Linked DNA regions of Homo sapiens. Changing the gene in region 2 together with the main gene of any one other region gives a genetic interaction. Each region holds a gene or a part of one and is shown on either strand. Other genes may lie near its edges.

What was found. A genetic interaction does not mean that the proteins touch.
Region 1: changes in PBRM1 (region 2) and UMPS together harm fitness more than expected from each alone (negative genetic interaction), as found in Homo sapiens cells (one large-scale study listed by BioGRID).

The regions. Positions count from the first base shown.
Region 1 is NC_000003.12:124,740,443-124,744,095, reverse strand, and holds part of UMPS (uridine 5'-monophosphate synthase), read right to left. Parts: intron 1,945-3,653; coding exon 1,830-1,944; intron 182-1,829; coding exon 12-181; 3' UTR 1-11. UniProt on the Homo sapiens protein: Bifunctional enzyme catalyzing the last two steps of de novo pyrimidine biosynthesis, orotate phosphoribosyltransferase (OPRT), which converts orotate to orotidine-5'-monophosphate (OMP), and orotidine-5'-monophosphate decarboxylase (ODC), the terminal enzymatic reaction that decarboxylates OMP to uridine monophosphate (UMP).
Region 2 is NC_000003.12:52,605,769-52,609,421, reverse strand, and holds part of PBRM1 (protein polybromo-1), read left to right. Parts: coding exon 1-109; intron 110-3,653. UniProt on the Homo sapiens protein: Involved in transcriptional activation and repression of select genes by chromatin remodeling (alteration of DNA-nucleosome topology). Required for the stability of the SWI/SNF chromatin remodeling complex SWI/SNF-B (PBAF).

The sequences.
Region 1 (3,653 bases), about 72 Mb from region 2:
ATCTGAAGCACTCAAACACCAAGTCTACTCAAATACGCTTCCCAAGCAGCTTTTCTGTACATCTCTGCTGCTTCCAGACGATCAGCTGCTGAGATTATGCCACGACCTACAATGATGATATCGGAACCTCGTTTGCCAATAACTTCTTGTGGGCTATTGTACTGTTGGCCAAGATTATCTCCTGCAAGAAACACAAAAATTGTTGTTTCACATAATACAAAAATCAGAAAACCTGTCACATGACTTCTCTGAAAAAGTATCTAACCAGCTTTAAATAAAAACATGCCCCTACTTTCGTTCCCCTTTTGTACAGCAACTGCGTAAAAACAGGAGCTGAAGAGACTCACTGGGTAGGCCAGAGACGTCAAATGGAGAAAGATGATCACCAACTCCTTTTCAATGGTAAAGTTTATTTTATTTATTTATTTATTTATTTATTTTTATTTATTTATTTTTTTGAGACGGAGTCTCGCTCTGTCACCCAGGCTGGAGTGCAGTGGTGCTATCTCGGCTCACTGCAAGCTCTGCCTCCCAGGTTCATGCCATTCTCCTGCCTCAGCCTCCCGAGTAGCTGGGACTACAGGCGCCTGCCACCACGCCTGGCTAATTTTTTGTATTTTTTAGTAGAGATGGAGTTTCACCGTGTTAGCCAGGATGGTCTCGATCTCCTGACCTCATGATCCGCCCGCCTCAGCCTCCCAAAGTGCTGGGATTACAGGCATGAGCTACTGCGCCCCGCCCTATTTATTTATTTATTTTTTTGAGACAGAGTCTTGCTCTGTCACCCAGGCTGGAGTGCAATGGCACAATCTCAGCTCGCTGCAACCCCCGCCTCCCGGATTCAAGCGATTCTCCTGCCTCAGCCTCCCGAGTAGCTGGGATTAAAAGCGTGCACCACCACGCCCGGCTAATTTTTGTATTTTGAGTAGAGACAGGGTTTCACCATGTCGGCCAAGCTGGTCTTGAACTCCTGACCTCAGGTGATCTGCCCACCTCGGCCTCACAAAGTGCTGGGATTACGAGCGTGAGCCCCCGCACCCAGCCTTATTTATTTTATCATTATTTTTTCATGTAATTTTTTTCCAGAAGCATAAATTCAAGTTGCCCTAAATATTCACCCCCTCAATGTCAAATTTTAGATCATCTGTAGCTTAACAATATATTAAAAAAAGAAGTAAAACTCATATGTTGCAAAGAAAGGTTCAATATCAAAAAAATACAATAAAGATTGGCCTCACAATTGAAGAAAATTTTAGCACACATCTTAGAATCACCACAAGGCACTGCTGAGCAAGTCTAACCTGACCACTACCATATACAAGAACCCCATCAAGTGGTCACACAGACTATCCATAAACCCGAATCCTTAAATTTTGCTTTTTTATTAAATTCCGCTGTTTCAGAAGCATTCTGTTAAATGGCTTATTATCTTCCAAATCCAAGATACTTTAAGTATTCTTAAAAGCCTAGACCCTAACTATAATATCTAGTCAAACAATTATTAGGGCTTACGAATAAGGGCTTATAAGTACAGAGTGTTTACTCTGTGCCAAGACATTGTGTTAAATATTCTACATGTTATCTCATTAAAGCATCTTGATTACCTTATGAGGTCAATACTGTTATCATCCCCATTTTACAGACAATTAGACTAAAAGAAGTAAACTGACTTGTCCAAAGATACATAGTTACCAAAGGGCTCATTCATTATTGTTCTAGACTAAGAAGGCTTTTCTTAAGCAAGTGTATAATAATATGCAAAGTTTTATTTTGCCTGCCATGGGTAAAGAAGCATTTTTGGAAGAGCCACGACCAGTGACCAGATTTACCTCCTGCTTCCAACTGAACTCCTGGAGTCAAGTGAAGAAATTCTGGTTTCATGCTTACTCGGGAGCCAGAAATAAAACCAACAACAAATTCAGAGTGCTCCTCAGCCATTCTAACCTAAATGGAATGTAATAGGACATATTATAAGAAAACAGTTAATCACACAGAATAAAAGTAAAAATATGCTCTATTTTTTCAAAACTTAAAAAAAAAAAAAAAAGACATGAGGTCTCCCTATGTTCCCTGGCTGGTCTTGAACCCCTGGGCTCAAGGGATCCTCCTACCTTGGCCTCCCAAAGTGCTGGGGTTACAGTTGTAAGTCACCATGCCTGGCTTATGCTCTATTATCTAGTTAGAAACTTTGCTGTATTATAGATGCCTTTTCTCATTCCATATATATAAAGTTACTATATCTGAAACAGGTCATCTTAGATAGAAACCATAATAAAACACATCTGCTTCATTAAGACTCTGAGATGACCCTTTCCCTTCCCTTCCCGCAATAAACCATACGTAAAGCAGAAATCCTATACTATATGCATCTAAAATCAAGATGCTGCATAATTTCTTATTTCTAATAATGCTTGGTGACCCACCTACTTCCAAAAAGGATTTGAGGCGAGTACTCTAGAACATATTATAATGGTATGAAACCACATTCAAGGCTTACTGACTATCTACAGACGGGGTACTCCATATCCAAAGGCAGCTGTCATGTAAAGAACAGCTACGCTTTCAAGAGCTAAAGAAATCTCACCTCTACCACTTTCCCTCTTCTGTAACATCAACTGGTCTCCCCAATTTCTATACTATTATCTCACATTCATAAAAGTCTCTTTAGAAGGTCTGCCTGGCTTTCTGATTCGGTAGGTACTTTCCCCGAGACGTGACTCCCATACTTCCCTTCTTATTTGATACTTCCCGGAGACCAGACTCAGTACCACCACTGCACTCCAGCCTCGGTACTTCGAGACCTGAGACACACATTGATACATTCATTCTTGCCACCAAGTACTACTGCCAACAAACAAGTCATGTCTTGTCCTTGAGCCAGACCCAGACTCCCAGAATGCCAAATATTAAAACTGACTCATGGCCCCTGTGATTTTGAGACTTGGGAAATCAGACAGTTATAGTCAATTCAGGGATAGGGTTAAAACCTGACTGTAGGGCCATATGAGTTAAGTCTCCAAATAGTCTGAAATAATATGAAAAAATGGAAATCCTTTACTTCTAGAATCTTCACATGGGGATTGTCTTGGGGATTTCATTTTTAAAAAAATCATGGGGATTTTCTTGGGGCTTTTTATTTTTAATTTTTTTTGACAGGCTCTTACTCTTGCCCAGGCTGAGGTAAAGTGGCATGATCATGGCTCCCTGCAGCCTTGAACTTCAAGCTCAAGCGATCCTCCCACCTCAGCCTCCCAAGCAGCTGGGACTATAGGCACGTACCACCATGCCTGGTTATTTTCTTTTTCATTTTTTTGTAGAGACGAGATCTCACTATGACGTCCAACTCCTGGCCTCAAGCAATCCTCCCGCCTTGGCCTCCCAAAGTGCTAGGATTACAGGTGTGAGCAACTGCGCCCAGCCCCCTATGGCAATTTTTTTAAAGTAATATTATATTCTAAAATATCTGACAAGAATAAGAGAAAGCCACTGCATGTGGGCTGCTGTCATGGGAATGTGCATCTCTGTAGGACTTGGGAGATTCTGAGAAACTGCATGTCTGGGAAGCTCTTCTCATCTTCTCTCAATTCATGGTAAGATGAAAAAGACATTATCTTAAAGTCCTGGTAGATTTAGTAAGTGTTTGTTTGACTAAC
Region 2 (3,653 bases):
TTACATTTGACATAATTAGGAAGAATGTTGAAAATAATCGCTACCGTCGGCTTGATTTATTTCAAGAGCATATGTTTGAAGTATTGGAACGAGCAAGAAGGATGAATCGGTATGTTTTCAAAGCCATTTTTATTTTGAGGATATGTGCTATTTAATACAAAACAGATGAAAGAATATTGCTTTGATGTACTATTTCCACTTACATACATGATTTGTAGTTGGTAGCATGCTATTCTGAATTCTAATCAGCCAGAACTTCTTAAGAGTGAGTATATTCTGTGGGGGAGAGAAGGCACACCACTAAGTCATCTAGTTTAAGGCCAGTGAGGAGGAAGACAAAATTGAAAATCTCTTGAAAAGCATAAACTTAAAATACAGCCTTTCATAGAATGTGTTTTTTAAAAAGATAAATGTTTCTAATTGGAAATAGTAACAGCGTTTTTCTTTTAAGGTTTGGCTTCAGTGCACGAATGCTTTAAATAAAATAGCTCTAAGGTGTTGTCCTGAGGTTAGACTGATAGAAATTTGATCACCATTTTAAGTACCTCAGAGGGTTTCTTTTTTTTTTTTAATCTCAGGTTTCTCACCTTAAGAGCTTGCTGAAGACATTAAATGTTCTAAAAGAAGCAATCAAATTTAGATTTACTTTAAACTTAAATTTCCTTCTAATTTTTATCTGTGATATATCGTTGCTACATGTCAATAGCAGACTTGACTATTAAATTCAGCAATTACAGTGTATTTTATATGTGCACTTAGAGACAGTTGGAAAAATATAAAAAAAAAAAAGATACAAACCTTACCTTCCTGGAGCTTACAGCCTATCATGTTTAGAACTAGACCTTCAGGCAGTGTAATGCCAGCTGGGGAATCTATGAAATCAGAATTTGCTCTGAACCTTTAAAGAAAAGCAAGTAGTAATGTTTGCTTTCAGTGTCTTTGCAAATAAAAGAAAAAAAACATAGTAACATTTGCTGCTTGTGTTAAGCACCAGCTCTTCGTAAAGCACCATGCTAAGCACTTTATGAAGGCAATCTCTAACCCTTATGATAGCCATTCTAGATAAGTGATAATCTTTTCAGTTTGCATGTGAAAGAATTAGAGGCATAGGCAGAGAAAAGTTACCCATAGTCTTACAACTAGTAAATGATGTGACTTGTCTTGCTCTCCACTGCAGAGGGCTACTCCTGAGCCAGTTACCAGGACAAGTCATGGAGCACGGCCATAGATGATAAGCCTTGAGCTCTGTGCTCTAAAAGCTTGAAGTCTGATGGATGGGCCAGGACTTACGCTTAAGGGAAAAATAATTCCACACATGAGACAACATGCCACAACCTTATATTTAGTAAAGATGGTGATGTAAGGAACTCTGTGGGCCACAGTTCTCCTTAAAAGGCATGGGATGATAGGTAGGGTTCAAATGAATAGGCCAGAGGATATTTCAAATAAGATGAATGTTATGAGCAAAGAAATGGAGTTAGGAAATGAATATGATATGTTTAAGAGACAGGGATAGAGTTGGGGCCAGTTTGGTGAGGCCCATGTGTGACACTTTTAAGAAATGGTCCTTAATAATATGGTTCTTCAGCAATTGAGTAGAAATAAAGAGAAGGATGGAGGGACATCTTGCAGTCAAAAACTCTTGGAGTTACTCATTTATTCAACACATATTTATTGAGAGGCTACTTAATGAGCATATTCTAGATGCATGTAATACACCAGTGGGCAAAACAAACTCTGCTTTCATGTAGCTTAGACTTCTTTCTGTTCTTGTTCTTGGCTTAAGTAGTCCTTAAGTCTAATACCCCTCCCTTCCTCTCCTCCCTGCTTAGCCCCATTACATCTTGGTGTTAGTTCTGTGAGTCTTTCAATGAGTATTTGTCTTCTAGATTATTAGGAACTTCGTTTATGTCTTATAGATGAAATGTTTATTTTAAGAATTAAGATTTGTATCTCTAGGAAATTAGCTCTTTTCATTCTCCCATTGTTGACATGGTTGTTTTTTGCTTTTGAGGCCTGGAAGATAGAGTCCAAGGTGTATTTTTATGAGATAGTGATGCACACAGTTTTACCCTCATGCCCAGAGCTTTGTTGAAAAACAAAAGGGATCCCTGGTAATTTAGTAGTTAGGAAAAATTTTTTAAAGAAAAACATACGGGGAGCCATTCTTAACTTTGTGAACAAAGATAGTATTGTGATTGCTTATAGTACTTATTAAGAATAAGTACTTAATAAGAATTGATGGAGATGCATCAATTTAGTGAATGATAAACTATGCCTTTATCTACTATATTATCAGTAACAAAGCTAGGCATCCCAGAAATATTAGTTCATAAATTCAATGAAGTCTACATACCGTAGATTTCCATGTTGATCTCTAAGAGTCTTCATGCTTCATCACCATTTACCCCTACCCCTACCCACCACTGCTACCCAACATCACCTAGGACTTCACAGGCTAAAATAGAAGGAATCTGAACAGTGAGACGTAACAAGAGAAAAATTCACTCAGGTGACAATAGTTTGTCCATCAACAGTATTTAGTAACAGCACAGTGCTGACTCATGCCAGTTGGCTGCTGGCTTTCCTAAACTGCTGGCAGTATTCCCAGACTAAACACTCTGATCCCCTTGCAGGTAAAAGAGACCTGTGGGAAGATGAACAAGGGAAGCATTAAGAGCCTCCTGTATTCTTAATTATTTCCTTTTGCTGAATGTCTGCCTTATATAAAAAGATTACCAATTGAGGGGAATTTAGAGTTCTTTTTCCAGCTTGCGTTTATGTTCCTGCACATTCAATGAATACCTGACCTCGTAGACTAATAAATTCTTTATAATGCTTTGAATAAACAAAAGCATATACTAGGTGTTTAGTGACTCTTGTACAGAATGTTCATTTCTAAACCATGCGATATGATGGAATTATGATCTGCCCTTTTAGTATACCATGAAAGGTATTTACAAAAATTTTACAAAAATTTTTTACTTTTAATTTACAGAAATTTTCACTTTTTATACTTAAAATTGTACACTATTATAAAATGAACTTTAATTTCAAGTGAACAGAATTCAAATATCTTCATTCAGAAAACAAACATAAAATTATGTTTTAGGGGCCAGGTACAGTGGCTCACACCTGTAATCCCAGCACTTTTGGAGCCCAAGGTGGGAGGATGGCTTGCACTCAGGAGCTTGAGACCAGTCTGGACAATATAGCAAGACCTTCCTTAGCTCTACTTAAAATAAAATTTAAAAAATCAGCCAAGCTTGGTGACATATGCCTATAGTCCCAGCTACTCGAGAGGTTGAGGTGGGAGGATTGCTTGAGCCAGGAGATTGAGACTGTAGTGAGCCATGATCGTGCCACTGTACTCCAGCCTGGGCAGCAGAGTGAGACTGTGTCTCAAGAAGAAAAAAAAAGTGTTTCAGGGGTGTCTTCCCTTGGTAAGTTTTATTTTTATTGCTTTCCTACAAGTATTAGCATTTCTATGACCCCAAAAGATATTTAAAACCTTTCCAAGGCCGGACACAGTGGCTCACACCTGTAATCCCAGCACTTTGGGAGGCCACGGCGGGCGGATCACCTGAGGTCAGGAGTTCGAGACCAGCCTGGCCAACATGGTGAAGCCTCGTTTCTACTAAAAGTACAAAAAT